Linked DNA regions of Homo sapiens. The protein of the gene in region 7 purifies or fractionates together with the protein of the main gene of each other region. This does not show direct contact. Each region holds a gene or a part of one and is shown on either strand. Other genes may lie near its edges.

Region 1 (4,377 bases), on a different chromosome or scaffold from region 7:
TGATCCTTCTGCCTCAGCCTCCCAAAGTATTGGGATTACAGATGTGAACCACCACACCCGGCCGGTCATTACTTTTACATGTCTAAATAGTCCTTGGGTCTGGGCATGGTGGCTCATGCCTGTAATTGCAGCACTTTGGGAGGCCGAGGCAGAGGATTGGGAGGTTCGGGAGGATCACTTGAGGCCAGCAGTTCAAGGCTGCAGTGAGCTATGATTGTGCCATTGCATTCCAGCCTGGGTGACATAGGAAGACCTTGTTTCTACAAAAAGGTTTTTTTTTAAATTATCTGGGCATGGTGGCACATGCCTGTAGTCTGTATGCCTAGCTACTCGGGAGGCTGAGGTGGGAGGATTGCTTGGGCCCAGGAGTTGGAGGCTGCAGTGAGCTATGATCCACTGTACTTCATTTCAGTATAAACGACAGAGCAAGACCCTGTCTCCAGAAAAAAAACAAAAATAGCTCTTGGTCCATTATTCTAATATTTCTTCTGTTTGAATCTACAGTCCATTGCTTTGGGGGTGTTTTATGGTTATGTTTCTCAAATTATTATTTTTTGCCTCTGAGCTTTTTTCCCCTGCAACTGTTCGCTATTCTAACACATCAAGCAGTGTGAATAGGAGAATGGCCAGATCCCTGTCCTTAACAACCCACATGATCTCAGGACAATGGGCTGGATAAGCCTAGGCCAGAGATTCCTAGGCACCTAGAAATGAGACTTAAATTTATTTCACCTTCCACAAAACACCTCTTCAGGTTGGATCTTCCCACTTCATCCCTCAGGGAAGAGTATTAGTAGGAGACACTTCCGATAGTGTTATTCCCTAGCCCTGGGCGTGGAGAGAGGGCTGGGGAGATCATTCGGCCCTACCAGTTTTTCTCAGTTTCTCACAAGCACAAGGCTCCTGCACTGCCCTTGTTTACTGGTAAGGACATCTGAACAAGCGAGAGGGCAGGTGCCGATGCACACAGCAGTGAGGGAGGAGCAAGAGCAAAACTCTGTTCTCTCGCAGCCATTATGCACTGCCTTCTGGTCCAGGCCAGAACTACCACCTCCCACACAGCCCAAGTTAAAACAGTCACCCGGCCCCATCCTCACCCATTCTCCCCAGCTGTCACCAGCCGGGTTTCTTTCTTTCTTTCCTTTTCTTTTCTTTTCTTTTCTTTTCCTTTTCTTTTCCTTCCTTCCTTCCTTCCTCTCTCTCCCTCCCTCCTTCCTTCCTTCTCTCTTTCTCTCTTTCTCTTTCTCTTTCTCTTTCTCTCTTTCTTTCTTTTTCCTGCATTTTCCATCTATGTTCCTCTAGGATTGATCTTGGAGAAAGGAGGCAGAGATAAGAGTCAAACCAATTCAACATAATGGTCCCCAAATAAATTTCTGAGGTCATATTTTTCCATTTAAGCAAACAGCTCTGACATACTAGACTCTCAATCTCAGTTTTGAATTCCTGGGAGAAAGACTCTCGCAGAGCTTGGGTTGCCTAGGATAGTATTTAAAAGGGTTTGTATGACCCAAGCATCTGGGTCTTTTGGTTGTGGGGGTAAGCCATGCTACCAGCTCCCTTCAGCACCTCCCTATTTTCTTTTTCTTCTTTAAAATAAGACAATTTCTGTAACTACTGAACTGGTAGTGTGGTATCATGAAGGTGAGGCAAATGCCTGATACCTAAAAGATGCAGCCAGTCCCACAGTTTATTTCAGGAGGGCTGGTATTTGCAATGTGTGCAAGATAACATTTTAGTCATTATGAAAAGTATGACTTTTCATACTTTTCTGACAATAAGAATTTTTAAAATTTAAAACTGTAAACAAAATAATGTACTTCATTAAAATGCAAAGTAAATCTTTAATTAATAAAAGTTTTTAAGGCCAGGTGCAGTGGTTTGTGCTTGTAATCCCACCACTTTGGGAGGCAAGGCAGGAGGATTGCTTGAGGCCAGGAGTTTGATAGCAGCCTGGGCAGTACATTGAGATCCCGCCTCTACAAAATCAAAAAATTAGCCAGGCAAGGTGGTGCGTGCCTGTCGCCCCAGCTACTTGGCAGGCTGAGCTCAGGAGGTCAAGCCTGCCTTGGGCCATGATCATCCCATGCACTCCAGCCTGACATTCAGAGCAAGACCTTGTCTCAAAGAAAGAAAAACATTTTTATGGTGTTTTCTTTTTTAGTCTTTTCAATAATGAAAATTTTCATTTTACAGGTAAAATGAAAGGCCTGGCATTTATTCAAGATCCTGATGGCTACTGGATTGAAATTTTGAATCCTAACAAAATGGCAACCTTAATGTAGTGCTGTGAGAATTCTCCTTTGAGATTTCAGAAGAAAGGAAACAATGTGATTCAAGATATTTACATACCAGAAGCATCTAGGACTGATGGATCACTGTCCCGATTCAAATTATTCTTCAGTCCATTTCCCCTTCCTATTTCAGCTGTTCCTTTTCACCTAACTGTTCAGTCATTCTGGTTTTCAAGCAGTGCTTTATCTCATGTCCTTGAATATAGTTGTGTAACTTTATTTTTTAGGTAATAATTAGAACAGTTCCCTTCAGAGGCTGCATTTGCCTTCTTCTGCCACCTAAATATTACTTCCCTTCAAATCTGCCTTTGAATCATCATTTTTAAAAAAAAATTAACATGTTTTTGTTGTAGTTATCTTCTGGGGTTTCAATTCCTCAGAAACAACTTTTTTCACAACGGAAAGGAAAGAACACTAGTGTTCTTTCAGTAAAGTACAAAGTGTTTATTTTACAAAAGAGTAGGTACTCTTGAGAGCAATTCAAATCATGCTGACAAGGATACTGATAGAAAAAGTGATTTCTTCTTATTATAAAGTACATTTAAAGTTCAAGGACTAACCTTATTTATTTGGGAAAGGGGAGGAGGAAGGAAATGATATGGTACCCAGACACTGGGCTAGGCTGCAACTTTATCTCATTTAATACTCCCAGCTGTCATGTGAGAAAGAAAGCAGGCTAGGCATGTGAAATCACTTTCATGGATTATTAATGGATTTAAGAGGGCATCAATCAGCTCAACTCAAGATTTCATAATCATTTTTAGTATTTAGATTGTGCCTCAAAGTTGTAGTACCTCACAATACCTCCACTGGTTTCCTGTTGTAAAAACCTTCAGTGAGTTTGACCATTGTGCTCTTGGCTCTTGGGCTGGAGTACCGTGGTGAGGGAGTAAACACTAGAAGTCTTTAGTACAAAACTGCTCTAGGGACACCTGGTGATTCCTACACAAGTGATGTTTATATTTCTCATAAAGAGTCTTCCCTATCCCAAGGTCTTCATGATGCCAGTAGCCATATATGATAAATTATGTTCAGTGATAACTTAGTTATCAGAAATCAGCTCAGTGGTCTTCCCCGCCATGATTCACATTTGATGAGTTTTTAAAAATCAAAGTGATTTTGAAAATCTCTAATGGCTCAGAAAATAAAAACATCCAGTTTGTGGATGACTATATTTAGATTTCTCTAGACTCTAGTGGAAGACCTTTGGAAAGGCCATGCCAACCGTGCTTGTACTGCTAGAAGCACTTTATGTTTCCTTTTTGGGTGAAATGGATTTATGTGAGTGCTTTAAACAAATAGCAATACTTATAGACTGAAATAAAATGAAACTTCAAATAAGACTATGTTTAATTTGTAAACCTTTGTCCATCATGTTCTTTCTTTAAAAAAAAAAAAAAACAACTCCCCTTAGTGAGTACTGAAAGGATTTGAAAAGGCTTGTAGGCTCATTCTGAAGAGAGAACAATTGTGATTCTGTACAGCCCGTAAAGCAGGTAGTGTCTATGGATAAGGGAGTGTGGGAAAGGTGGGAAGAAGAAAGTGAATACGGAATAAAGGATTGTGGTAGATAAAGTGCAAACAGAAGAATATCAAAAGGTAAGGAACTTATGAAGACCAATTTCACATGTTGAGTGCTAGAACTGACAAACGGGAGGGCTAATACATTCACAAATTCAGTAATTTAAGCTTTATTTCCAAGGAAAGAAGCCTTCTCCACTTGCTGAGTAAAACTTGCCAAAAGATAGCCCTTGCTCATTCTTTAAATTCATTCCTATATGCATTTTTTTTAAATGTACAGTTGGCCCTTGAACAACATAGGTTTGAACTCCACTGGTTTATTTATACAGGGATTTTTTTCAAGCAAATGTGGGTTGAAAATACAGTACAAAGGGGGCTGACTTTTCATATGCCAACTGTGGGACTTAAGTATGCACAGATTTTGGTATCCATGGGCAGTCCTGGAACCAATCCTCCACATACACCGAGGGACAACTGTATATGGTAACACTACGCCTTGTTAGGGAAAAGAACAATTCACTTCCAAATTCACTTACCTGAGAAGTTGTACGAAAGTACAAAGTAG
Region 2 (4,156 bases), on a different chromosome or scaffold from region 7:
TGTGATCCCGTCGCCCAAAGGCCATGGCTGTTAACTGTGTGAGGCATTTCCCTCCTGCCTTTTTCTATGCATTTTTTTTCGTAGTCGAGAACTTGTGTATAAGGCTCAGGGTAAATATCCTGCACATTTTCCCGTATCATCAAACAACATTTTCCTCAGAACACTTCCTGGAGCGGTTCTGACCCACAGATACTCCCCTCTCTCACCCAGCCCTTCGGGGCCCCTGGCCAGCCTCCCAGGTTTCTGCTGGAATCACAAGGCTGCCACAAACATCTCCGTGCCTTCAATCTTTGTCCGTGTCTCTGGTTAGCTGCTTGAAATAGTTCTTAAAAGCAAATGGGTGAAAGGGTATAAACACGCCTAAGACTTAAGTGCTCTCTTGGGGCAGCAGATTCCATTCTGAAAAGTAGTGCGCAGCTCACCACCCCTTCTGAGCAGAGCCCGCAGCGGCCGAAGCAACGAGAGTTTCCCTCCCTGCAGCGTACCCTGGCCGTCAGGAGGCCCAGGTCCCGGTCCTGGCACTGTGTGGCCCTGGCCAAGGCCATCTACCTCTCTGAGCCTCCATGGTCCGCTCTGATCAGGGAGGCCACTGGCCCTGCCTGGCCTGCCTCAGTGACCCAGCCCTGGGGGTGCACCTGCTCTTTTTTTTTTGGAGTGTAGTGGCACCATCTCGGCTCACTGCAACCTCTGCCTCCCAGGTTCAAGCGATTCTCCTTTGTCAGCCTCCTGAGTAGCTGGGACTACAGGCGCCCACCACCACGCCTGGCTAATTTTTGTATTTTTGGTAGAGATGGGGTTTCACCATATTGACCAAGCTGGTCTCGAAGTACTGACTTTGTGATCTACCCACCTCGGCCTCCCCAACTGCTGGGATTACAGCCGTGAGCCACTGTGCCCGGCCTGGGGTGCACCTGGGCAGCTGGTTCCTGCTCCTGAGGCCCTTTCAGCAGGCAGAGGGCTTGGCTCAGGCCGGCAGCCATCTGCAGCTTCCTCCCTGTCACCCCCAGGCACAAGCTGGCTGACCAGCGGACCAGGAAATCTCTGGGCCGAGGGGAATTCCGCCTTCTGCACTATGCGGGGGAGGTGACCTACAGCGTGACCGGTGAGGATCCTGGGGCTGTGTCCCCACAGGGGCCTGCGGGGAGGCTCTGTCTCACCTCACGTCGGTTCTCCCCTCCCAGGGTTTCTGGACAAAAACAATGACCTTCTCTTCCGGAACCTTAAGGAGGTGAGGAGGACGTGGGGAGGCCGGGGTGGGGGTGGGGATAGCCCACAGCTCTGCACCTGTGTCCAGGAGCCTGTCCTGCCTGTCCCTGTGCCCCACCCTGACCCCGGCTCTGCCCACACAGACCATGTGTAGCTCAAAGAATCCCATTATGAGCCAGTGCTTTGACCGGAGCGAGCTCAGTGACAAGAAGCGGCCAGAGACGGTGAGGAGGTGGCGGGACCGGGCGCAGGGGTGCATGCGCCTGAGTGTGCATGAGGGCCTGTGTGAGCCTGGGAGCTGGCAGCGTGCGTGTGAACGCGTGTGAGCCCGTGCACATCTGCAGGTGTCTGTAGGGGGCTGCCTTAGGTGCCTCTTTGCCTACTTTTTTTTTTTTTTTTTTTTTTTGAGACAGGGTCTCGCTCTGTTGCCCAGGCTGGAGTGCAGTGGCGCAATCTGGGCTCACTGCAACCTCCACCTCCCTGGTTCAAGCGATTCTCCTGCCTCAGTCTCCTGAGTAGCTGGGATTACAGGCGCCTGCCACCATGCCCGGCTAATTTTTTGTATTTTAAGTAGAGATGGGGTTTCACCATGTTGGCCTGGCTGGTCTCAAACTCCTGACCTCGGGTGATCCACCTGCCTCGGCCTCCCAAAGTGTTAGGATTACCGGTGTGAGCCACCACGCCTGTCCCTGTTTGCCTACTTGTGTGTGTGTGCTGTGTCTATAGTGGAGTCGTGTGTCTTCAGTGTGGGCTGTGTCTGTAGGGGAATCCTTGTGTACGTCTGTCTCTGTGGGTGCCCATATGTTGACAGCTGCCTCTGTGCGGTTGCTGTCATGTGTCTACCCACTCAGCAGACATTTATAGCAGACACTGCCAGGCACTGAGGTACCACAATGAGTGGGTGTGCCTGCAGCAACATGTGCACAGGGTGCTTTGCAAACTTAGAAGAGGGAACAGCAAACGGCCTGACGGGGCGGAAGGGGTGAGGGGTTGGGGAGGCTCCCTGGAGGAGGAAGCATTGGAGATGACTTGGGAATGTCAGATGAACCTATAGTGAGGGCCCAGTCCAGACACAGAGAGTCTAAAAAGGCCATGAGGTGAGCAGGAAAGCGATGGCATCAAGGAGAAGGACCGGGGGAAAGGCAGGCATGGCCAGGGTGCCAGATGCAGGGAGGGCTCCAGCGAGCTGAAGGCGGAGGTACGGCTGTTGGGCTTGGCAAAAAGAGGGTCAGGGGAGCCCCAGAAGAGTGAGGTCAGTGAGTCCATAGGGAGGTGGAAGCCAGACTGCCTGGCAGGGAGGGCATGCAGGCGACATGCTGCCCAGGGTGTGGCTCACTGTGCCCCTGCCCGCTGCTGCCGTCCACCCCACCCTCTCCCGAAGCACCACATCCTCCCGGCCCTAGCGTCTCCCTGCTGAGGATGCCTACACACCCTCCCGCCCAGGCCTCTCCAGCAAGCCACAGACTCGTGTATCTCATCCTCTTCCCCTAGGTGGCCCCAGGGCACCCTAGATCCCACTGGTCTATAACAAACGGGCCCTTGGTCTGCCCCTCCAGGCTTTCTCCTTCTTTGACCCAGTCCCCCAGGCCAGAAACCTGGGTGTCATCCCCTTTTTTGTTTTTGTTTTTGTTTTTGAGACGGAGTCTCGCTCTGTCACCCAGGCTGGAGTGCAGTGGCGCGATCTCGGCTCACTGCAACCTCTGCCTCCTGGGCTCACGCCATTCTCCCACTTCACACTCACGAGTAGCTGGGATTACAGGTACCCGCCATCGTGCCCGGCTAATTTTTTTATTTTTGTAGAGATGGGGTTTCACCATGTTGGCCAGGCTAGTCTTAAACTCCTGACCTCAGGTGATCCGCCCGCCTCGGCCTCCCAAAGTGCTGGGATGACAGGCGTGAGCCACCGCGCCCGGCTCCGGCCCCCTCGTTCTTTTCTCTCCTTGTCTCCCTTGTCCAGCCACTGGATCTTGCCGGAGTACTTAGCAGCTCCCCCTCAGTCCTTCCCTGTAGCCACTTCACCCGCCCCTCCTCCTTATCCTTTAAAGCTCAGCAGAGCGTCATTTCCAGAAGACGTCACCTGGTGCCCCCTAACCCTCAGACTGGATGAATTGTCCCTTTGTGGGGCTCTCAGAACCCACAGGCATACACCTGCTACTCTCGGAACACCGGGATTGTGAGTCTTTGCCAAGGAGCGTGCTCCTCCGCCAGGCCTGAGATCCTTCCAGGTCCCGCAGAGCAGCATACCCAGATACTAGCTGAATGCGTAGCATGGGACATGCTGTTTAGGAACGCAGCCCTGAAGTTCTAGAAAGAAAAAGAAGGGCCACTAAAGGGAGGTGTAGCACTGAGGTTGCTGGGAGACCTGAGCAGGAGTTTTAGGCTGGAGTGAGGCTCGTAGACTGAGGTCTCTCGCCCAGCCAGAGGGGTAAGGGGTGGAGTCTGGCCCCCTCCTCTGCTGCGAGGAAGCTGTGGTGGGAGGAGTAAGGACCAGGCAGAATCAGAGGCTGCTGCGCGCGTCACCAGCCAGGGGAGTGGGGTACTCGCTGCTGGGGTCAGCAGCTTTAGCCCAGCTCCGGCCAACCTCCCATGCCTCTTGGCTCGCCAGGTCGCCACCCAGTTCAAGATGAGCCTCCTGCAGCTGGTGGAGATCCTGCAGTCTAAGGAGCCCGCCTACGTCCGCTGCATCAAACCCAATGATGCCAAACAGCCCGGTAGGCCCCTCCCACGGGGGACTTCGGGGCCGGGCCTCCCCTGCAGGAGACAGGCCGTCAGCGCCAGCCCGCTGACCACGGCGCTCCCCCTACCCCAGGCCGCTTTGACGAGGTGCTGATCCGCCACCAGGTGAAGTACCTGGGGCTGTTGGAAAACCTGCGCGTGCGCAGAGCCGGCTTTGCCTATCGCCGCAAATACGAAGCTTTCCTGCAAAGGTGGGGGCAGGTCCTGCTCGGTG
Region 3 (4,156 bases), on a different chromosome or scaffold from region 7:
GAGGCAGACCTTTTCCCTCATTGTCTGATTTGGATGTTCTCACTGCTGTGTTGTATGGAACCAAAAGAGGCTCAGCAGGCTTTGAATTCCAAGGAGAAGGGAAGGACAGTCAGACCTGGATGCTGCAGAGCAATCTTAATGTCAACTCAAGGGCCCACTGAACCTTATAGCTTCTGGCACTGTAGATTCCTCAGTGAAAACAAGGCTCAACAGAAATACTCTTTGCAGGGAAGTTGATCTCAATTGAGCACAAAAGAAAACAAGGTTTATGGTGTTAATTTTCTAATAATAATAATGTGCTTTCCTTCATAGGAATGTCATAAGGATTTATTGAAAGAATGAATATGCATATATGTGTATCAAAAATATTTGCTGAGTTTCTTTCTTTCTTCTTTTTTTTTTCTTAAACTATAGCTGGTATTTGAATGTTGCTAGAAGCCTTTCTTCTAGTATGCCATATAAGCAGCCCTAGCTGAGTTCTATTTTTGTTAAGCTTAAAATTCTTTTTAAAGACTTTGTCAAAACTATCAGGTTTCTCACAGTCTTCTCTAGTTTCAATATGAGAATTTTATTTTATTTTATTTTTGGGACAGAGTCACTTTTGTTGTTCAGGCTGGAGTACAGTGGCATGATCTCGGCTCACTGCAACCTCTGCCTCCGGATTCAAGCAATTCTTGTGCCTCAGCCTCCCAAGTAGCTGGAATGACAGGTGTGCCCCACCATGCCCAGCTAATTTTTTGTATTTTTAGTAAAGACAGGGTTTCACCATGTCGGGCCAGGCTGGTCTCAAACTCCTAACCTCAGGTGACCCGCCTGCCTTGGCCTCCCAAAGTGCTGGAATTACAGGTGTGAGCCACCGTGCCTGGCCAGAATTTTACATATTATATATATGATAGAAAAAAACCCCTCAGAATAACAGAAATGTACAATTTTAGGAAACATGAAATTCTTTACCTTATTAGTATAAGAATCCTATATATTGAATTAAGAGATAAAGACATTTTTGCTTCAGCTAGAGGTATCTAATCCCCAAAGTTACCCAAGTGTATATCAGTATATTAAATATAACTTATCTATGCTGTTGACAAATAGCATAAACATATGGCTTGACTTTTCTCATTTTAATATTTGTTCATTTGATGATTTGTAAACTATATAATTATCACCCTGATTTTTTTCCCCCTATATTCTCATCCTTGCTTGCCTGTTAGGTGGGTGTGCCTGCTGCTTTGGACATGATGCTGACTGGTAGAAGCATTCGTGCAGACAGGGCAAAGAAAATGGGACTGGTTGACCAACTGGTGGAACCCCTGGGTAAGTGTTAGCACATCTCAGAGTCAGACCTTATAAAGTTACTTATTTTCTTAAAGAGTTAACCTCTTAGGCCAGGCACGGTGGCTCACACCTGTAATCCCAGCACTTTGGGAGGCTGAGGCGGGAAGATCACTTGAGGTCAGGAGTTTGAGACCAGCCTTGCCAACATGGCGAAACCCTGTCTCCACTAAAAATGATTAGCCGGGTGTGGTGGTGCAAACCTGTAGTTCCAGCTACTTGGGAGGCTGAGGCAGGAGGATCGCTTGAACCTGGCGGGGCTGAGGTTGCAGTGAGCCAAGATCATGCCATTGTGCTCCAGCCTGGGCAACAGAGCCAGACTCCCATCTCAAAAGAAAAAACAGTTAACCTCTTGAATATCACAGGAAGCACAGAGAGAAGCTCAAACTCTTAAGAAATGAGTCATTATTCTAAGGAAGGAAGTTTTATAAAATAGCTAATACTAAATCATTTTCAACATCACCCTGATTTTTATTTTGCTTTATAATTAGAACATTAGGAGTACAGAATTCAGTCAAGTCATTATTTTTGGTTCTTAAATTACCTGTATCATTATCCATGCATAACCTTCCTTCAGTTTCTTGTGTCTGTTTTAGTAATATAATAAATGAAACAACCAACCTGAGAATATTAACAATAATTGATATCTACTGATGGGCTACTTCCTCCCATTCAGTTTCTTTGCCTCCCTTTATCCAAAGAAGCCACTATTCTGACTTGTGTGTTCATTACCCTCTTATATTTATTGAAAATCAGCATTATTGAGATATTACTTACATAATAGTAAATGTATTAATTTTGTGTGTGTGTGTGTGTGTGTGTGTGCGCGCGCACACATGTTGGGGTCTCACTCTGTTGCTCAGACTGGAATATGGTGGTGTGAATATAGCTTGTTGCAACCTCAACTTTTTGGGCTCAAATGATCTTCCCACTTGTGCCCCCCGAGTAGCTGAGACCACAGGCATACGCTGCTACACCAGCTAATTTTTTATTTTTTGTAGAAACGAGATCTCACTCTGTTTTCCAGGCTAGTCTCAAACTCCGGGCTCAAGTAATCCTCCTCCCTCAGCCACCCAAAGTGCCGAGATTTACAGGTGTGAGCCACTGTGTCTGGTGAAATTGACCAACTTTTAATGTATAATTTGAGTTTTGAAAATGTATATAGCTGTGTAAACACTGCCACAATCCAAAAATAGCCGTGCATGGTGGCTCACACCTGTAATCATAGCATTTTGGGAGGCTGAGGTGGGAGAATTGCTTGAGGCCTGGAATTCAAGACCAGCCTGGACAACAGAGCAAGATCCTATCTCTTAAAAAAGAATTTTTTTTTTTCAATTAGCTGGGTATCATAGTGTATACCTGTAGTCCCAGCTAGTCAGGAGGCTGAGACAGGAATATTGTTTGAGCCCAGAAGTTCAAGGCTGTAGTGAGCTATGATCACACCACTGCACTCCAGCCTGAGCAACAGAGTGAGATGCCATCTTTTAAACAAAAATTTTTAAACATTTCTGGTATGTAGTTTGTTTTAATCTTCGTTCACTTAGCATAATGCTTTTGAGATGCATCCATACTGTTGCATATATCAGCAGTTTGTCCTTATTGCTGAGTGTTACTCCATTGTAGAAATGTACCATAGTTTGTTTATCCGTTCACCAAATGATGAGCATTTGAGTTGTTTCTAATTTAGGGCTATTCTGAATAAAGCTGCTATGAACATTCATCTTTAAGTCTTTATGTGGGCGTGACTGGGCGTGGTGGCTCAAGCCTCTAATCCCAGCACTTTGGGAGGCTGAGGCAGGCTGATCACCTGAGGTCAGGAATTCAACACCAGCCTGACCAACATGGCGAAACCCCATCTCTACTAAAAATACAAAAATTAGCTGGGTGTAGTGGTGTGCACCTGTGGTCCCAGCTACTTGGGAGGCTAAGGTAGGAGAATCACTTGAACCCAGGAGGTGGAGGTTGCCGTGAGCCAAGATTGTGCCACTGCACTCCAGCCTGGGTGACAGAGCGAGACTCTGTCTCAAAAAAAAAAAAAGTCTTTATGTGGACAAATGTTTCATTTCTGTTGGGTAAGTACTGAAGAGTGGATTGGCTAGTCCATATAACAGATATATATTAGCTTTTGAAAAAAAAAGTTTGGCCTGAGCAACATAGCAAGACTCTGTCTCAACAAAATAAAAAGTTTTAACTAGTTGGGTGTGGTGGCACATGCCTGTAGTCCTGGCTACTAGGGAGGCTGAGGCAGGAGGATTGCTTGAACCCAGGAGTTTGAAGTCACATGGAGCTATGATCAGGCCACTGCACTCCAGCCTGGGTGAGAGAGGGAGACCTTATCTCTGGGAAGAAAAAAAAAAAATTTAGAGATGAGACTTTGAGTCTTGCTCTGTCACCCAGGCTGGCCTCAGACTCCTGGGCTCAAGCAGTCTTCCTGCCTCAGCCTCCCAAGAAGCCGGGATTACGAGGCATATGCCACTAGTATTTGCTAGGTATGTGTTTGCTTTTCTGTCAGACTGTTTTCCCAAAGTGGTTATACTCTTTTGCATTCCCACCAGCAGTGTATGAGAGTTCTAGGTACCAACCACTTTGCATGGTCAATCTTTTTAATTTTAGACATTCTAACAGGAATGTAGTAACAGTTCTTTTTTCTTTTTTTTTTTTTGAGACAAAGTCTCGCTCTGTTGCCCAGGCTGGAGTGCAGTGGAACAATTTTGGCTCACTGCAACCTCTGCCTGCCAGGTTCAAGCGATTCTCCTGCCTCAGCGTCCCAAGTAGCTGGGACTACAGGCGCCCACCACCATGTCCAACTAATTTTTGTATTTTT
Region 4 (4,156 bases), on a different chromosome or scaffold from region 7:
AAGAGAAAAGAAAAATAAATCACCTTTAACATAGGATATACTGTAGCTGATCCATTGGAATTGAGAAATCCTTATAAATGTATTCATCCACTGTGTATCCGCAAAGTTTTTTTTTTAATTATACTTTAAGTTCTAGGGTACACATGTACAACGTGCAGGTTTGTTACATAGGTATACATGTGCCATGTTGGTGTGCTGCACCCGTTAACTCATCATTTACATTAGGTATATCTCCTAATGCTATCCCTCCCCCCTCCCCCCACCCCATGACAGGCCCCGGTGTGTGATGTTCCCCACCCTGTGTCCAAGTGTTCTCATTGTTCAGTTCCCATCTATGAGTGAGAACATGCGGTGTTTGGTTTTCTGTCCTTGCGATAGTTTGCTCAGAATGATGGTTTCTAGCTTCATCCATGTCCCTACAAAGGACATGAACTCATCACTGTGTATCCACAAATTTTTTTTTTTTTTTTTTTTTTTTTTTGAGACAGAGTCTCACTTTGTCGCCCAGGCTGGAGTGCAGTGGTGCAATCTCATCTCACTGCAAGCTCCACCTCCCGGGTTCATACCATTCTCCTGCCTCAGCCTCCCGAGCAGCTGGGACTACAGGCGCCCACCACCACACCCAGCTAATTTTTCTATTTTTAGTAGAGACAGGGTTTTACCGTGTTAGCCAGGTCTCGATCTCCTGACCTCGTGATCTGTCCCCCTCGGCCTCCCAAAGTGCTGGGATTACAGGCCTGAGCCACCATGCCTGGCCAAAAATTTTTAAAAGAAAAAAGAGACTCTTTTTATCCTCACTTTAAACTACCTTTGTATTGCTTTCAAAGTCTGCATGATTATCTTTAAATCCAATCAGTATGACTGAGAAAGCAGTATTTTGTTAGTTTCTTAGTGGTTTTTTGATCAGAGAAATAGGAACTAGTGGAGTAAAGATAAAATAAGAAAGATATGAAATAATTATATATATATTTTTTTCTGAGATGGAGTCTTGCTCTATCTCCCAGGCTGGAGTGCAATGGCGCAATCTCAGCTCACTGCAACCTCCACCTCCTGGGTTCAAGCGATTCTCCTGCCTCAGCCTCCCGAGTAGCTGGGATTACAGGTGTCTGCCACCACGCCCAGCTAATTTTTGTATTTTTTTTTTTTTTTTTAGTAGAGACGGGGTTTCATCATGTTGGCCAGGCTGGTTTCTAACTCCTGACCTCAGGTGATCCACCTGCCTCAGTCTCCCAAAGTGCTGGGATTACAGGCATGAGCCAACACGCCCGAAAAATGCTCATGGGTTTAAGAGAATGTAAAGAATATACATTTTTTACATTTTTAGGAATTAAAATAGATTTATCTCTTTCAACTTTTGTATATGTTTGACATTTTTTATAATATTGGAAAAATATATGAATCTTGTATTTTACTTTTTTAGTTTGTTCATTCAAGTATTTCAATAAAATAGATGATTACTCCATATTCTCAAAGAGGTTTTAAATCTTTTTTAGTGGGCCGGGTGCGGTGGCTCACGCCTGTAAATCCCAGCACTTTGGGAGGCGGAGACGGGCAGATAACAAGGTGAAGAGATCAAGACCATCCTGCCCAATATAGTGAAATCCTGTCTCTTCTAAAAATACAAAAATTAGCTGGGCATGGTGGTGCACCCCTGTAATCCCAGCTACTCAGGAGACTGAGGCAGGAGAATTGCTTGAACCCAGGAGGCAGAGGTTGCAGTGAGCCGAGATCACACCACTGCACTCCAGCCTGGCAACAGAGCGAGACTCCGTCTCCCAAAGAAAAAAAAAAATCTTTTTTAGTGAATGGAAAGTTGGAAAAATTTCACGCAATCTTTTCTTTTAAAGAAGTATATCACAAAATGAAAGGACCTAATAGAAATGAGCAAAAGGTAGTTGACTGATCTATCTTTGTAGTATACTTGCTATATAAATGAGGCTGTTTGTGTGGCAAGTAGATTGAACAGCAAGTCTACTTTTTGTCAGGTGCGTAGCTTTCATTTACAGTGGAGTCTTTAAGGTTAAACACTATTGGAATTATTTTTTATTTCCCTCTACTTATGTCTGTTTTCTTTTACAGCATCCACCCGTTTTGTCAAGTGTGAAAAGTGTCATCATTTTTTTGTTGTGCTATCTGAAGCAGACTCAAAGAAAAGCATAATTAAAGAACCTGAATCAGCAGCAGAAGCTGTAAAATTGGCATTCCAACAGAAACCACCACCTCCCCCTAAGAAGGTATAAGTCTTAAGCTCAGTCTTACAAGTATTTTATCTTGAAAACATTCCATTGCTTCCCTCTCCCAAGTTTACACTGAATCCTAATACTAGTATATAAACAAGTATTATAGGTTCATAATATGGACCATATGTGGCTAAATTGTTATTGCCTTTTGGAATTTAAATATGGGGTCTGTTGCTTTTTCCCATGTTATGATTACTGTATTCAGTGGCAGTGAAATATAGCTAGATAATTATTAAAATGTTAACTTGTTAATACCAAGTTAATCTGAAATAATATCTACAATAGAGCAAGCAACTTCTGATTTATTTTTGTTCATATGGACCCTTAAATAACACCAGCCTAGGCTGGTCCACTTGACTAGCCTTAAAAAAAAAAGCCTGCAATTATCTCCCTTAAATTGGTCTATTTTATGGTAAAACAGCCTTCAGTCTAATAATGTAAGTAAGTAGTTTTTTCATAGCCAGTGTGCCGGGCTGCTCCGTATAGCACTGTGGCTTTGGTAGTGTGGACTCTTTAGAAGTCTCAGGCAGAGTATGATTTGGTCCTGTGAGATGTAACAGAATGTACCACCAGCTCCATTGGGTATTTGGTGTGTGCTTTTTGAGAACTGGGAACCCTTGTACCCTGGCTATGTGCCTTCTGTTCTGGCTGTGTCTCAGATGTTTGCACACTTAGATTATTTCTCACTGCCTCAGTGTATCTTTCTTCTACTGTGTTTAGATATCAGTGCATTTGTCTCTACTTCCAAATGTGCTGTGACAGATTTAATGTCATTGGTATAATTTGTAAGGAATAAAGATGTTTAAAACTATAATAAAATGTATATGGTCAACAACTAAAGAATTTGTCATTAAAAATGGAAAATATATTGGGCTTTATATTCTATACGAATTTGTGTAGACTTTAGACATGTGAGTTAAAATTCCAGGCAGTTTGGCCGGGTGCGGTGGTTTGGTTCACTCCTGTAATCCCAGCACTTTGGGAGGCCGAGGCGGGCGGATCATGAGGTCAGGAGATCGAGACCATCCTGGCTAACATGGTGAAACCCCGTCTCTACTAAAAAAATACAAAAAATTAGCCCGGCGTGGTGGCGGGTGCCTTTAGTCCTGGCTACTCGGGAGGCTGAGGCAGGAGAATGGCGTGAACCCGGGAGGCGGAGCTTGCAGTGAGCCAAGATCACGCCACTGCACTCCAGCCTGGGTGAAAGAGCGAGACTCCGTCTCAAAAAAAAAAAAAAAAAAAAAAAAAATCCAGGCAGTTTAACTAATTTCAGGAGTTTTTGAATTATTTATTTTTTAATCAGGGTTTCACTCTGTTGCCCAGGCTGGAGTGCAGTGGCACACTCATGGTTCACTGCAGCCTTAACCTCCCTGGGCTCAAGTGATCCTCCCACTTCAGCCTCCACAGTAGCTGGGACTGCAGGTGTCTACCACTATGCCCAGCTAATTTCTGTAGAGACAGGGTTTTGCCATGTTGTCCAGGCTGGTCTGCACCTCCTGGGCTCAAGTGATCCATCCGCCTCAGCCTCCCAAAGTGCAGGGATTACAGCCGTGAGCCACCAAGCCCGGCAGGAGTTGGTTAATATTAATTCACCAACCATTTCATTTCTATTCACTAAAAACTTAAAAAATTTACCCCAGGTTCCAAGCTGTTGGCAATAACCAACTGTAGAATAGAGCTTTAGCTACTATTAAGAATAAAGTTTTTAGGGCTGAGCTTGGTGGCTCATGCCTGTAATCCCAGCACTTTGGGAAGCCAAGGCAGGAAGATTGCTTGAGCCCCAGGAGTTCAAGACCAGCCTTGGCGACACAGTGAGACCCTGTATCAAAAAAAGAAAAAAATATATTTTTAGAAAATAAAAAAAAATAAGAATACAGTTTTTAGAGTCTCAGATAAATGAGTAGCTTTAAAGTTAA
Region 5 (4,156 bases), on a different chromosome or scaffold from region 7:
CATTCCATAAGAACATGCTTTCCATAGTAACAAGCATTATTTACTGGAGGAGCTTCTAACTTTACCCCTACTAAGTTTCAAAAGAAATTTAAATGTATCCCCTATAGAAAAGCCCATCCATTTTCTCTTTCCACCTAAAAATAGGACCCCAATTTTACGTTACAGTTTGGAAGAGAAAACTTTCCCTAGTTGAACTGACTCTTGTGGCCCTGTGATCAAAGTCTAGCCAATATTTGGGGGGCTAATCCCCATATGGGCCACTCAATAGGATATTTTTAAAAAATAAAAATAAAAATATTCTGGCCAATATAATACAAGGATAAACAGCATGTTTTATTTCAGGAATGTCTCCCTCAATCTTACAGAGGGTATATAACAGAATTAGGAATCAAATTCTGCAAAGCCTCTATTTTGTACAAGTGCTTTAAGTATAAAAATTATAAAAATACTTCAAGAGTTTTATGTTTTAAAAACATATTTTGCCAGGCACAGTGGCTCATGCCTGTAATCCCAGCACTTTGGGAGGCCGAGGCGCACGGATCACGAGGTCAGCAGTTCAAGACCAGCCTGGCCAACATGGTGAAACTCGTCTCTATTAAAAATACAAAAATTTGGCAGGCATGGTGGCGTGTGCCTGTAATCCCAGCTACTCGGGAGGCTGAGGCAAGAGAATCACTTGAATCCGGGAGGCGGACGTTGCAGTGAGCCAAGACCACTCCATTGCACTCCAGCCTGGGCGACAGAGAGCGACTCCATCTCACAAAAGAAAAAAAAAAAAAAAAAAAAAAATATATATATATATATATATATATGTAATTTCTTATAAACACAAAATTAGAGTAAAACATTTATTTAAAAGTTGTTTCAGCTGGGTGCAGTGACTCAGGACTGTAATCCCAACATTTTGGGAGGCAGAGGGGTAGGGGCAGATCCTTTGAGCTCAGGAGACCAGCCCGGGCAACATGGTGAAACCCTCTATCTACAATAAATACAAAAATTAGCCAGGCGTGGTGGTGTGTGACCGTAGTCCCAGCTACTCGGGAAGCTGAGGTAGGAGGATCACTTGAGCCCAGCAGATCAAGGCTGCAGTGAGCCATGTTCACGCCAGTACACTCCTGCCGGGACAAGAGAGACCCTGTCTGAAAAAAAATTAAATAATATATAAAATATAAATAAATAAAAACTTGTTTTAAGTGCCAGGTTCAGTGGTACAGGTCTGTAGTCCCAGCTACTTGGGAGTCTAAGGCAGGAGGATTGCTTGGGGCCAGGAACTTGAGGCTATACGCCATAACTGCACCTGTGAATAGCCACTGCACTCCAGCCTGGGCAACACAGCAAGATGTCATCTCAAAAAAAAAGTTGTTTCAAACTCTAAATATATTTTCTCCTATGTTAGTATGATTAATAATATTAATGATTAGAGCCCCTGGTTAGTTCATGAAGTCTGTTTAGTTACAAATGCCAAAATTCATTCAGCTTTGATGATAAACACTGAGGCCCAATGGCCTTTATCATCTAGGGAGTATGAAGAATGAGCAAGAGGCTAACTCAGCGTGAGTTACCCTGGGAAAGGAAAGAAGAAATGGTTCATATAGGACACACATAGATACCTTCAAGGGTGTTTGTAGAGTTGTTTCTTAAGTAGTTGGTTTCCTTCACAGAAAGTTCTTAAACTCAGAATATACCCATCCATGCACCCCACCAGCAATACAAAGACCCCAAACAAAAAATTACTATATTCTTACCCTACGCATGGCTTCCTCCTCTTCTTGACGCTTTTCATAATGTGCAAAGTCATCAAAGATTGAGGTGGTATGCTTGAAAGTAGCAATTATTTTAAGCACTTGCTTAGCTTTTTCTAGGGGTACCTCTTGAGTGTCCCTTGAATTGGTAACCGGTTTGTTGTCATTATTTTCTAAGCGAATATGCCGTAATTGGTTATTGGGAACATCTTTGACAAAGATCCATTTAACTTCAAATTTGCCCTTCCACTTATCCTGAGACCAGACACCAGCATACGCATTATAGTCCACAACAGACTTCATTTCAGCCACTCCACAAAAATGTCCACTGCCATTCACACTGAAGAGTAAATAGAGTGGGCCTTTCCCATTCAGGGAACGGTAAGCTGCATCCAAACGCTTATTACCATGCTCAGTACTACACCAGATAGAGTATTTAATGGAACGATGTATGTCATCCTCAGAGTAGCTTTTAATTATAAACACACGTCCATTCTTCAGATTCCAATCAAAGTCTTTGGGATTATAGTTGTTTATGGCCTTTAGCTTTTCCAGCACGGGATGCACTTCTACACTAGAAGGTGAAGCACTGACAGGTACAACACCTAAACCAAAGTTTTCACTGCCCGCTCCATTGTTCTGGTTGAAGCCTGCTCCCCTGTTACGAGGAGCTACCCAGCGATTCTGCAGCTGCTGCTGTTGAGGCTGCACTTGGTGAGGCTGGGCCTGTGGCTGAGGTCCTTGTTGCTGCTGTGGTTGTGGTGGTTGAGGCTGCTGTTGAGGCAGTTGGCTTTGCACCAATGGTGGTGGTTGAATTAATGGCTGAGGCTGCTGGATTATAGTTTGAGGAGGCAGAACTGGTTGGGTTGGTGGAGCCTTTACCACTGACCCTTTTTCATCCCAAGTTCCAATATTCATGTTGTGTTTTATAGGAGGTGGTGGTACAGCAGAACCCCCAATTCCCACATTGCCCTTGGGTTTAAGTTTCGGTTGAGGTTTGGCAGGCTTTCTGGCAATGGCAGCCCAGGAGGTTGGTTTAGGTGCTGCACTGCTAACTGGGGGCACACTATTGGTTGCAATGCTAGTCATACCACTGCTGCTCAAAGCTGTACCTACAGTTTTTGTCACTGCAGCTGTCAGGTCACCACCAATTTTCAGTCCAGTCATGCCTTGCTCAATACTGCTAATGCCAGGCACCTTACTCAAAGTATCATTGCCAAATCCAGCCTGTCCATCAGTAATAGCTCTCCCAAGAGAACTAGGTGGATAGCCATAACTGCTACTATAAGCAGAACTTTGTGTTGATTGTCCCTGAGATCCACTTGTCCCCCATGTAGAGAAATCAGCATTACCAGGAAAAAAGTTAAATCCATGTTGACCAAGAAATGGAGGGGTATTTCCTAATGCCCCAGGTTGACTAAATACACCATCTGGTATATAGTGATGTTCTCCATTACTCATTTGTCCATAGGTTGTCAGATATGGCATAGGCTGGTCTCCAGCTGTGGACCACGCTGCTTCCCCAAGAGAATATGGAAATCCAATGGATGGAGCATAGTAACTAGGCATGTATGGATCTGACATTGGTGGATAGCTGTTACTCTGCAAAACAAAATATCACAATCAGTAGCGAAATGTCCTCTTAAAAGAGCAAAAAAAGAAATCTGAAAGATTAAAATCAAGAAGTTTTAAGTAAATGAAAATAAAAGATGTACCTATTCTAGATAAACAAAATTAAAATTTCAAATCCAGTTTTATCAACAGAAAAATTTGCTGATGAGTAGTCACATCTTAAAATATTTCTTACAAACTAACCTATATGGCTTTTTTCAGGGATGAGAGTGGGGGTATAATGAGTATTATTTTTGTTTGAAGAGCCAGGCCCTCTGTCACAATTTAAAAATATCATAATTTCTACAAAAGGCTAATATATAAACTTTGTGGACACAAAATTACCATTTACAGCCAGCTGTACTTTAATCAATTGATGTATGCAATCACTTACACACAAGGATTAAATAAACTAGACAACTCTGCCGAATAATAGAGGAATTACAGCTTATCTATATGATGGAATCCAGTTCAACCATTAGATTTTGTACTTTCATTAAGGAAAAAATGGAGAAATGCTCACAGTCTTGAGAAGATTCAAGATTACGTTTATAGCATGATGCAAATTTCTTTTTGTTTTGCTTTGCCTTGTTCATTTCAAAAAAAGACATAAAACAAATTCCTTATCATAGTTTCTTATTGGTGGAATAACAGACATGACTTTTCTTTATACTCTCCTCTTCCCCAAATTTTACACAATAAACCTATTACAGAACAGGTTTGGGTTTTTTTTAATTTAGTAATAGTGAGTTCATGTAAATTTTTTCCAGAATTACTGCAATTAAATCAACCTTCACTATACT
Region 6 (4,156 bases), on a different chromosome or scaffold from region 7:
CATCAAAGATGAAAAGAGAGCCACATGACTCAGGATTAAAGACTGACAACTCAGGCCACACCGCCGTCCATGGTATCTATGGAAATAGGATAATGTTAACTTTTTACATGATGAAAAGTTAACTATTTGCAATTTCTAAATTACTATAGAAACAGAAACATGTGACAGGATAAATGAACACTGCTTGATGACCTTTGACAACCTTTGAAGGTTTTATTACCTAGTCCCTGTATAGAGATAAGAGATGATGGTATTGAGTTTTCTAGGAACCAACTTCTGGGAAAGATTTTTAAAGAAGAAAAATATCTGAGAGAAAAATACAAACTAGAACTGAAACAATGATGCCACTTCCTTTTAAAACTAAGAAGCCTAGTATAAAAGTTTCTTTAGTTACTACCATGTTGTTAGGGGATTGTCTCAGCGTTGTAGGCTTTGCCTGAATTTAAAATCCCATCAAAACTTTTTTGCTCTTAAGCATAAATACAACAAATAGCATACATATAAAATTGTGCCAGTTTAGTAAGTTTTGAAAAGCTTAAAAAAAAACCAAACTCTAATTGTGTTTGTGTGGATGAATTTGCTAACTGATGACAGTAGCTAACCCATTTATGCTGGGGGTTGCAATTTTTTGTGTGAAAAATCAGACCTTGGCAATGACTTTGAGCAGTAGGATGTAAATGACTCCCACAAGCTTAGCATTCCAATAATGGAACACTAGGCATAAATGGGTTAACAAGAATCTTATTTGAAATGTTCTTCTCCCTGCCTTGAAATCTTCCTGGGGTTAAGCATTGCTATCACGATGCTTGGAGAACTGTGATCAAGTCTTCTCTGGCTCAGAGAAACTGTTATTTTTCCCTTGCTTAGTAACGCAGCTAAAAGCATAGGCACAGTAGAGTAAGACATTTAACTAAACCAAATGAGCTTTATTCTTTCAAGCTGAACACCCCAGGCAAAGGCAAATTAGCTTTGCTGTGCACTACTTTTACTTCTTACTGTAAGTGCTGATATCGCTGATTGAAAACTTTCACAAGAAAGGCAGAGCATGCACATGCTTACCAGCAGCACTTCAGCAATCTGAGAGGCACAAGGTAGTGCCAACTTACACAAGTGACAGAAGGAGGAAGCTGATCCTGGAAACTGAGCAGTGGGCTGCTTTTTAAATCCTACTGCCAGTGGCCTTTAAAAGGTCAGTTTCCAATAATATTAGCTCTTTTGGTGCTAAACAGGAGATAATAGGAGACTGCTACCTGCAGGAACCAGTACACACTCAGTGGGGATTTGGTTTGAAGTTCCAATAAAAATAGCATGTTTTTGTGACCAAGAGAGCTGTGAAATAGGCACATTTAAAATACTTAGACCCTGTTATTTTAAAGCTACAATTTTTTTTTGCAAAATCAGTTGCAAAGAGACAAAACAAGCCAGGCAAAGGCAGTAATAGAAAGAGTAGAAGCTGATGAGTCAAAACACTTGAACAGAATTTGAAGCACCAGAGAGTCTTTATCTACTACGGAAAACCTGATTCTGTGGTCTCAGAAACTGATGAATTGTTAAGTCTAGGATACGCAAAGATGCATTTGTTCTAAGCATGAACTCTGGATAATACCTCCTCAATAAAAAGCATTTCTATTAAATGCTTAGTTTAGTGTTTTTGTTCAAGTTATTGGTTAGATAGTATTCCCTTTCTCATCTCCCCTTTTTAAACAGAAGTAGAATACTGTACAATTTAGTGAAAAGACCAAAGTTCAGATAAATTGATAGGAAGGAAAATATTTTATGGCTTATACCAAAGAGTCAGCACTAATGCATAGTCACTGTAAAAACCCAAGTTAAAGTTTAGAAAGTCAGTCAGAGTGGACTGAAATCCTAGGTTAAAGCATATTCATACATAGAAAATTGGCTTCCTGATCTTATTTGAATACTGAAAAACACACATATTTAAATAAAGAGTTCCAAAAAACTCAGATTATTTTAGAGAAAACACAGACTGTTATTGTTAGCTTATCTTAAACTAACCTTCAACTCAGAATTTTCACAATGATCATCATGTTTTATAAGTTTTTGATTAAAAATGTTGGCTTCTGAAGGCTGTATGCCTTACCGACAAAAACAGGCCAATCTGAAAGTATGTTTACCTCTAGTCCAAATAGGCATCAAGAATTTAAAAAATGATATTTAGGTACCAAGTCCAGATTGTAACTCTTGGAATTTTTCTCCTGGAAGCATTTAGTTATATTTCTGTCCCCTTTCAAAATGAACCACCTAGAGAAAAGCAAGTCAGAAAATTGTCTGCCCTCCAGTTGGAGGAAAAATATTAAAGAGAAGTGAAGTGTAATACCCAATAATAGTCACATATTTATCTTTATCTGTATTGAGTTTCTTTTAAACATTTTTAGAACAGTAACAGATGGTTATATTCATAAACTTAAATAAGATTTCCTCCAAGTTCTGGAATATATGTATACAATCTCAAAACACTGTACATATCACTCACTCTCCCTTTAGGAAGAAATGGAAATTAAAGTTAAAAGACTTCCTTGGATACTTCTAAGTAAAAGTAAATGATAATGGAAGGGAACTGAATGAAAGATAAATTCTGAAAAAAGCTAACAAAATCAAGTCCACAGTTTGACTCTTTGTTTCCTTGGAAAGCAACGGAAGCACTTAGCTTGGGTTTGAATATACAGAAAGGGTCATGCAGTGAGTTGCAGGTGGCATGCTATCCTTTCAGAGTTCAAATGCAGGGAACCTGGCTTTTGTGGGGACTAGCAGGTCAGCCAGGAAATATATTGTTCCAGCCATTCCTGAAGAAAGAGAAAGAGGCAAAAGTTATTATACCAAATGACTCCATTTCATAGGATGGTTCTTTTTCCCCCATATCTTTATTGACAAAAAAAGTCACAGCATTTCAGTCTATTCAAACACACAAACATCAACAAAGGGTGCCCACCAGTGATGGCCTCGTCCCTAAGGTCTGGATCAAGGCCGCACTGGAGGGTGGGGGTGTCCTCTTGGCCCTCCTCCTTCGGCATCCTATGGCTTTTTCCTCACCTCACTGACACCCCCCGAGAGCAGTTACAACTCTGCAAAAACGAAGGATGGCTCCATTTTTTAACATTAACAACATTACAATATTAACGGCAATGATTTAAATGAAGTGTGAATCTATCTACGTTTACATACACTGCAGTTCAACATTAGAAGAGATCACTAGTGAGGTGTTCAGCCTTATATCCCGGTGGAAGACTGGAGAAAGAATGGAGCCAGACAAGTTCAAGTCACAGCCCTGCCATTTACCAAACATAAGCTCCTGAGCCTCAGTCTCCTCGGCTATGACATGAAGGTAGTAGTGCCTGTATGTTTTTGCTGAATGATTTATGAGGGCGTCTGCAAAATGCCCAACATGTGCCTGGCTCCATAAAAGGGAGTCACCTGATGACTACCAGTATTGGGACTGTGGTATTACATGTGCTAATTGATTTTTAATATCGATTTAGCATATTAGGAAATAAAAAAGTAGTTTAAGAATAATTATAAAATTTTTTGCTAAAACTTAAATACATTAATTACCAAGCAGAGAAGTAGATGCTGATATTATAGGGCAAATAAATAAAGTGTACAAAATACCTTCAAAGAGAGAGAAAGGGGTGTCTGGTGTTCTGCATCCATGTTCTCCATACTCTAAGCACCATTCAGCAAACTGAAAATGAGACCAAGTTAAATTAGTATAGTGATTTCTTCCAGAGACAACCCCAAAAGTTAAGAGGTTGTCTATACAAATTACTCTGAAAAATCAAACACTACCTTCACATCAGAGAAAGGAGATTAATGCAGAGAAAAGGATGGTTTGAAAGAGTACACAGCATGGGAGGAATTTAATGAGCTGTCTGAGTCACGTATCTACAAGGTTATTCAAGAAGAAAGGCACAAAATCACCCTACATCTTTATTTTTTTCTCCCATTAATGCTGTTGAGTAGAATTATGTCCCTTTAAAGGAATGCTAATTTAATTGAAAGGCTTTTCAAGGTTTTCCTTAAATAACTGTATTTGTTATCCAAGACCTATGGTTTTAGGGATAAATGAATTAAATCAGATGAACTAGAACTCTTTCTACAACCTCCTGGGAGACCTGCTTTTTTTTTTTTTTTTTTTTTT
Region 7 (4,754 bases):
CGAGGCAGGTGTCATGGCCTTAAGAACTTTCTAGAGGTTTCTATTTATTGACATTTGACCTAGACCTCTTCATGAGCAAGGCGCAGCCTTGGGCTACAGGTAGGAAAGTCAGCATCCTACTCTCTCCTCAATTCCATCTGTTAATCCACCAACCCAAATCCCTCCCACCCCCACCTGAAGTCCAAATAAGGTAAAATGATAAAATGATGTGCTGTTCTCTCAACAGTTGGCTGAGTCTGAATTGGAGGGTAGGAAGCATTTGAAGCTCTGCCCATTTAGTTCCAGAACAAAAAATAAGCAGAGGCAGGAGGTGGAGAGCAAAGACGCTGGCAGCCCTGCGTCTGGTCTTTATAGCTGTGTCTTTGGATTTGTAGGCCACTCCTCAACTTTTCAGCTCCCGCACGATTCCTTAGGGCAAGCGACCAGTGGTTGACACCGCATATACACCTGGCTTAAAGTTATTGACTCGCTGCCAGTTGGAGACCCAGCTGTCCTCTGGACTCATCATCGCAATGATTCCATCAAAGGAGGAGCTGGTGCAGCCATATAGCATCTCTCAGTTACCCTTCATCTGTAGATATGCATCTCAATAGTCACAACCATCATATTCAAACTGGTCTATAGTACCTTGACCAGTGAACACAGCAAACAGGCCCACAGATGCCACAGGTCCTTCAGCACCGTCTCCAGGGCCATCTTCTCCAATGAGAAGAGCAACAGCAAGGAAGATGGCCACAGCCTGAGCACCCGCAGGAAGTAAACAGCTCGTTAGCCGGGTCTCTTCTTATAATTCCATCATGAGGACCCCATTCTCATGACCTCATATTAAACCTAATTACCTCCCAAACTTTTGACCTCCAAATGCCATTACGTTGGAGGGTAGTGCTTCCACCAATGAATTTTGAGGAGATACAGACATTCACTCCCTAACAGTGCTATAAATGAAGTCAGGGACCCTGATGGTGTCTTTATCACAGAATCTTACATTTTCTTTGTCTTTGCCTTAACACAACTCTTTTTGCTCACCTAGAAAGTTCTTGGGATTTAATTAACTGCTCTATCATCTCTTCCTCAACTCGAAAACAAAGGTTGCTGTGTCTTCACATGCCATGTACACACAAGGTATACTTTAAAAGTTTTTGTTCATTGTTCACATTGTCTTTTGCTCTCTTAGACTCAACTTTTTATTCAGTCCAGAGAACTTTTTAGTATAGAACTCACCCCAAGAATATAACTGCCTTTGAAAATATAATATTCACAAAAAGAATTTAAAAAGAGGGGACATTTACTAAATTTTTATTGGGCATAACAATTATTTCTTTTAGGGCGTTGCTAAATTTTTTGTCTAAATGAAAAAAAAAACAAATTGAGAAATTCCACATTTCACACTGATCTAGTGATCTCAACATACTTGTGGGTTTCTACTAACTGTTGTTTGGTATTGCTTTCTCAATTTCCTTTTTTTTTTTTTTTCGCCTCATCTCCCGGAATGTATCAAAGGAAACCCCTGTCTTTGAAAAAGACTTCTTTTGAGCTAACTTTCTTATACTGGTACCTTTCTAATCTCACTACAATATGTAACATTGGTGTTCGATCTCAAGTATTTCTGAATATATTCCCCTATCCACAGAAATATACTCTGGGGGAAAAAAAATAGAACAAATTCTTGCCGTCCTGACCATTGAACAAGAGACTAATTAGACAATGGGGCTAGAAAAACCTCAAAGTAAACGTGAGTACTTTCTCTCCTTTCCATTTCAAAGAAGCAGATGGAATTATACTAATTTAAAACATATGAATTGATGGTAGTTTTAAAGATTGTTGATGATGACGGGGAGAAGGAGGTGGAAGGAAATAAAAATGACGTTGGTGAAGAGGAAGGACATAGAGTCAAATAAGTTGGATAACAGAAACTTCTTTATAAAATGTATATTGGACCAAGAGGGGAGATAAAATATATAAAAGAGAAATAAGATGAAAAGAAAGAGAGTAATATGAGAAGATTCTTTTAAAGAAAAAAGAGAAAAGGAAGATGTAGAAAAAGCATTTAGGCTTATGCTGTATCAGAGGCTCTAACTGTCCCATTTTATGTTTGACTTAAGTGACACCAGTGGATTTGTATTGTGATAATATTAAATAATATTTTTGATAGATATATAGAACAAGTGTGGAAATGTTTAAATTAAAATTAAAGTTTTACTTTATCTCATCACCCTACCATGGCAAACTGTAATCACAGTGTGATCCTATTGAATTACCTTTTTAGGTAACAATATTTCTTAGAGATTTTTTGCATCAATATATACTGATTACATGCTTATTTAATTACTATACAGAATATCATTGTGTGAAGGGACCATAATTTAGAATTTCCACTATTGATAATATACATGTAAATATTAGATTACAGTATGTGTTTTCTATTTTGAGAAGTACTGCAATGAATATCTTTTAACATAAACAAGCTCAATTATTTCTATAGAATAGACACCTGTAATTGAAATTATTGTGGCAAATGAAATGCATTTAAAAATGGATAAATGCCACTAAATTGATCCTTCTAAAAGGCATTCCTAATTTTCCAGTCCAGGCAGCAGCATTTATTTTCTCACTAAGAGTGCTTATTTCCCCTCAGCCTTGCCAACACTGCATGTACTTAATTTACTTAAAAAATCTGATGTGTGAAAAGTTATACCACAATCTTTTCGTTTACAGTTCCCTGATTGGGCATATTTTTGTTTGATTAGTGGCTATTTATAACTTCAGCAAATTAAAATTTCAGCAAATTTCCTGCTCAGAGTTTTGCTCAGTTTTCTAGTTGATTTTGAAATACTTTATCCAGTGCGGATATTAATATTATGAGAAGACTTTCCTTTCATACGTTCCTTGACTCTAACATTGCTTGTGTTATATAGAAGTTTTAATTTTTATGTACTCAAATTATCTATTCTAATGGCTCTTGGGTTTTGTATCTTACTTATAAAATTCTTTTCATTTCAAAATTACCAAGAAATTTTACATTTTTCTTTCTTATTTATTTATTCATCAATAAGCTCTAAAATTGATTTATTTGGAGAAAATATTTATGCTCTTCTCTAGATCTGAAATATTTGGTTTGCTGTCACTTTTAGATTGCTCCTTGGTAGAATTAGCTTTCCTAGCTTGTAGCTGAGAGGAGGTTAATCTCTATTTTTCTTTTGGTCCTAGTGGAAGGAGGCATGCATCCCCAGCTGATACCTTCGGTTATTGCTGTAGTTTTCATCTTACTTCTCAGTGTCTGTTTTATTGCAAGTTGTTTGGGTAAGTTATTAGCCAAAGTAGAACTCTTCTTGAATTATTATTTCCAAACAACTTTTCTGAAGTTGCTCTAAGCCTTTTGGTATCTTGATTTTTCCTAGCATAACCTATCTATAATATCTTCAGGGTCTTGCACTGAATATTCAGAGCTACATTCTTGACCTTCTGTCTTTCAATGGTGGTACCTTGTGATAGAGATTGATTGATGGAATTTAGACCATTTTCTGTACATGTAAAAGTTGGTTACTATAGCAAATTTCCCCCCATTTTGGACTGGGATCACAAAGGGATACATCTTATGAGAAAAGAGTAAGCAGAAGAAAAATAACTTTCAGATAGACTGGCTTTGAAAAGAACAAGGTTGGAAGAATTGTTCTCTCTCTCTCTTTCCCTCTCTTTCTTTCTTTTTTCCTTTCTTTCAACCTCTTTATTGATGTACGATTGACATATGAAAACCTGTACATATTTAATGTATACATCTCAATTTGGGGGATTAGTATACACCCTTGAAACCATCACCACCATTAAAAAAATTCTTTCTGATATCAAACATAAAATAATTATAATTAAAGTAATATGATATAGGTGCAAGACAAATAGACTAGAGGAAAATAAAGGAGAGCTTGGTTACAGATCCTGCATGTATATAAGACTCTTTATATAAAACAAAAGAAGATATCTCAGACATATGGGAAAAGGACAATTTTGTTCAATTAATGTTGCAGAGCCCATTGATTATTTATATTTAAAAGATGAAATTGGTCTCCTGCATCACACTGTATACAAAAACAAATCTAGAGCAGATTATTGTCCAAAATGTGAAAAGTAAATCAATAAAGTTTTAAGAAGATAAATGGAGAATATCCTCATGACCTGGAGGTAGAGAACGATTTCTTAAACAAGCCACAAAATGCACTAGAAAATAAACATTGACAAATTATACTACATTAAAATGAGTTACTGTACAACAAAACATACCAGTAACAGTGAAAATAAAAAGCCATAGGAGAAGATACTTGTAATGCATATAATTAATAAATAATTCACATGTAGATTATATACAAATTTTTTCAAACCAGTAGGAAAAATACTTACAATAAAAAAACTGGGCAAAGTCTTAAATAGGTACTAAAACAAAGAGAAAAATGAAATGTCTAATAAACACACAAAAGTGCCAGCCTCATTAATTAATTATCAGGGAAATGCAAATGCAACTCACAGTGAGACACCTTTGCAAACATAACAGGATGGCAACAATAAAAAGTCTGGCACTACTAAATATTGATGATGCCATGGAGCAAATGGACCTCTAGTGAATTGCTTCTGGTGGAGTTTAAGCATTACAGTCACTCTGGAAAAGTTTACCGCTATCATAGTTTACAATATTCGTACGCTATTGCCTGCAGTTCCACTCCTACGTATGTGCCCTACAGAAACGCATGCTTATGTGCTCCAAA

The links.
Region 1: the proteins of CLEC4D (region 7) and GLO1 purify together in Homo sapiens (affinity purification with mass spectrometry, with the first as the bait; one large-scale study listed by BioGRID). This does not show direct contact.
Region 2: the proteins of CLEC4D (region 7) and MYO1C purify together in Homo sapiens (affinity purification with mass spectrometry, with the first as the bait; one large-scale study listed by BioGRID). This does not show direct contact.
Region 3: the proteins of CLEC4D (region 7) and HADHA purify together in Homo sapiens (affinity purification with mass spectrometry, with the first as the bait; one large-scale study listed by BioGRID). This does not show direct contact.
Region 4: the proteins of CLEC4D (region 7) and CLPX purify together in Homo sapiens (affinity purification with mass spectrometry, with the first as the bait; one large-scale study listed by BioGRID). This does not show direct contact.
Region 5: the proteins of CLEC4D (region 7) and YTHDF3 purify together in Homo sapiens (affinity purification with mass spectrometry, with the first as the bait; one large-scale study listed by BioGRID). This does not show direct contact.
Region 6: the proteins of CLEC4D (region 7) and LANCL1 purify together in Homo sapiens (affinity purification with mass spectrometry, with the first as the bait; one large-scale study listed by BioGRID). This does not show direct contact.

What each region holds. Positions count from the first base shown.
Region 1 is NC_000006.12:38,675,200-38,679,576, reverse strand, and holds the end of GLO1 (lactoylglutathione lyase), read left to right. Parts: intron 1-2,193; coding exon 2,194-2,282; 3' UTR 2,283-3,652; downstream 3,653-4,377. UniProt on the Homo sapiens protein: Catalyzes the conversion of hemimercaptal, formed from methylglyoxal and glutathione, to S-lactoylglutathione. Involved in the regulation of TNF-induced transcriptional activity of NF-kappa-B. Required for normal osteoclastogenesis.
Region 2 is NC_000017.11:1,471,884-1,476,039, reverse strand, and holds part of MYO1C (unconventional myosin-Ic), read left to right. Parts: intron 1-1,007; coding exon 1,008-1,102; intron 1,103-1,181; coding exon 1,182-1,228; intron 1,229-1,349; coding exon 1,350-1,430; intron 1,431-3,811; coding exon 3,812-3,917; intron 3,918-4,015; coding exon 4,016-4,133; intron 4,134-4,156.
Region 3 is NC_000002.12:26,227,350-26,231,505, reverse strand, and holds part of HADHA (trifunctional enzyme subunit alpha, mitochondrial precursor), read left to right. Parts: intron 1-1,211; coding exon 1,212-1,314; intron 1,315-4,156. UniProt on the Homo sapiens protein: Mitochondrial trifunctional enzyme catalyzes the last three of the four reactions of the mitochondrial beta-oxidation pathway.
Region 4 is NC_000015.10:65,164,709-65,168,864, reverse strand, and holds part of CLPX (ATP-dependent clpX-like chaperone, mitochondrial precursor), read left to right. Parts: intron 1-2,079; coding exon 2,080-2,234; intron 2,235-4,156. UniProt on the Homo sapiens protein: ATP-dependent chaperone that functions as an unfoldase.
Region 5 is NC_000008.11:63,185,335-63,189,490, reverse strand, and holds part of YTHDF3 (YTH domain-containing family protein 3), read right to left. Parts: intron 3,345-4,156; coding exon 1,746-3,344; intron 1-1,745. UniProt on the Homo sapiens protein: Specifically recognizes and binds N6-methyladenosine (m6A)-containing RNAs, and regulates their stability. M6A is a modification present at internal sites of mRNAs and some non-coding RNAs and plays a role in mRNA stability and processing.
Region 6 is NC_000002.12:210,431,760-210,435,915, forward strand, and holds part of LANCL1 (glutathione S-transferase LANCL1), read right to left. Parts: intron 3,701-4,156; coding exon 3,628-3,700; intron 2,805-3,627; coding exon 2,728-2,804; 3' UTR 1-2,727. UniProt on the Homo sapiens protein: Functions as a glutathione transferase. Catalyzes conjugation of the glutathione (GSH) to artificial substrates 1-chloro-2,4-dinitrobenzene (CDNB) and p-nitrophenyl acetate.
Region 7 is NC_000012.12:8,512,029-8,516,782, forward strand, and holds the start of CLEC4D (C-type lectin domain family 4 member D), read left to right. Parts: upstream 1-1,474; 5' UTR 1,475-1,704; coding exon 1,705-1,732; intron 1,733-3,207; coding exon 3,208-3,300; intron 3,301-4,754.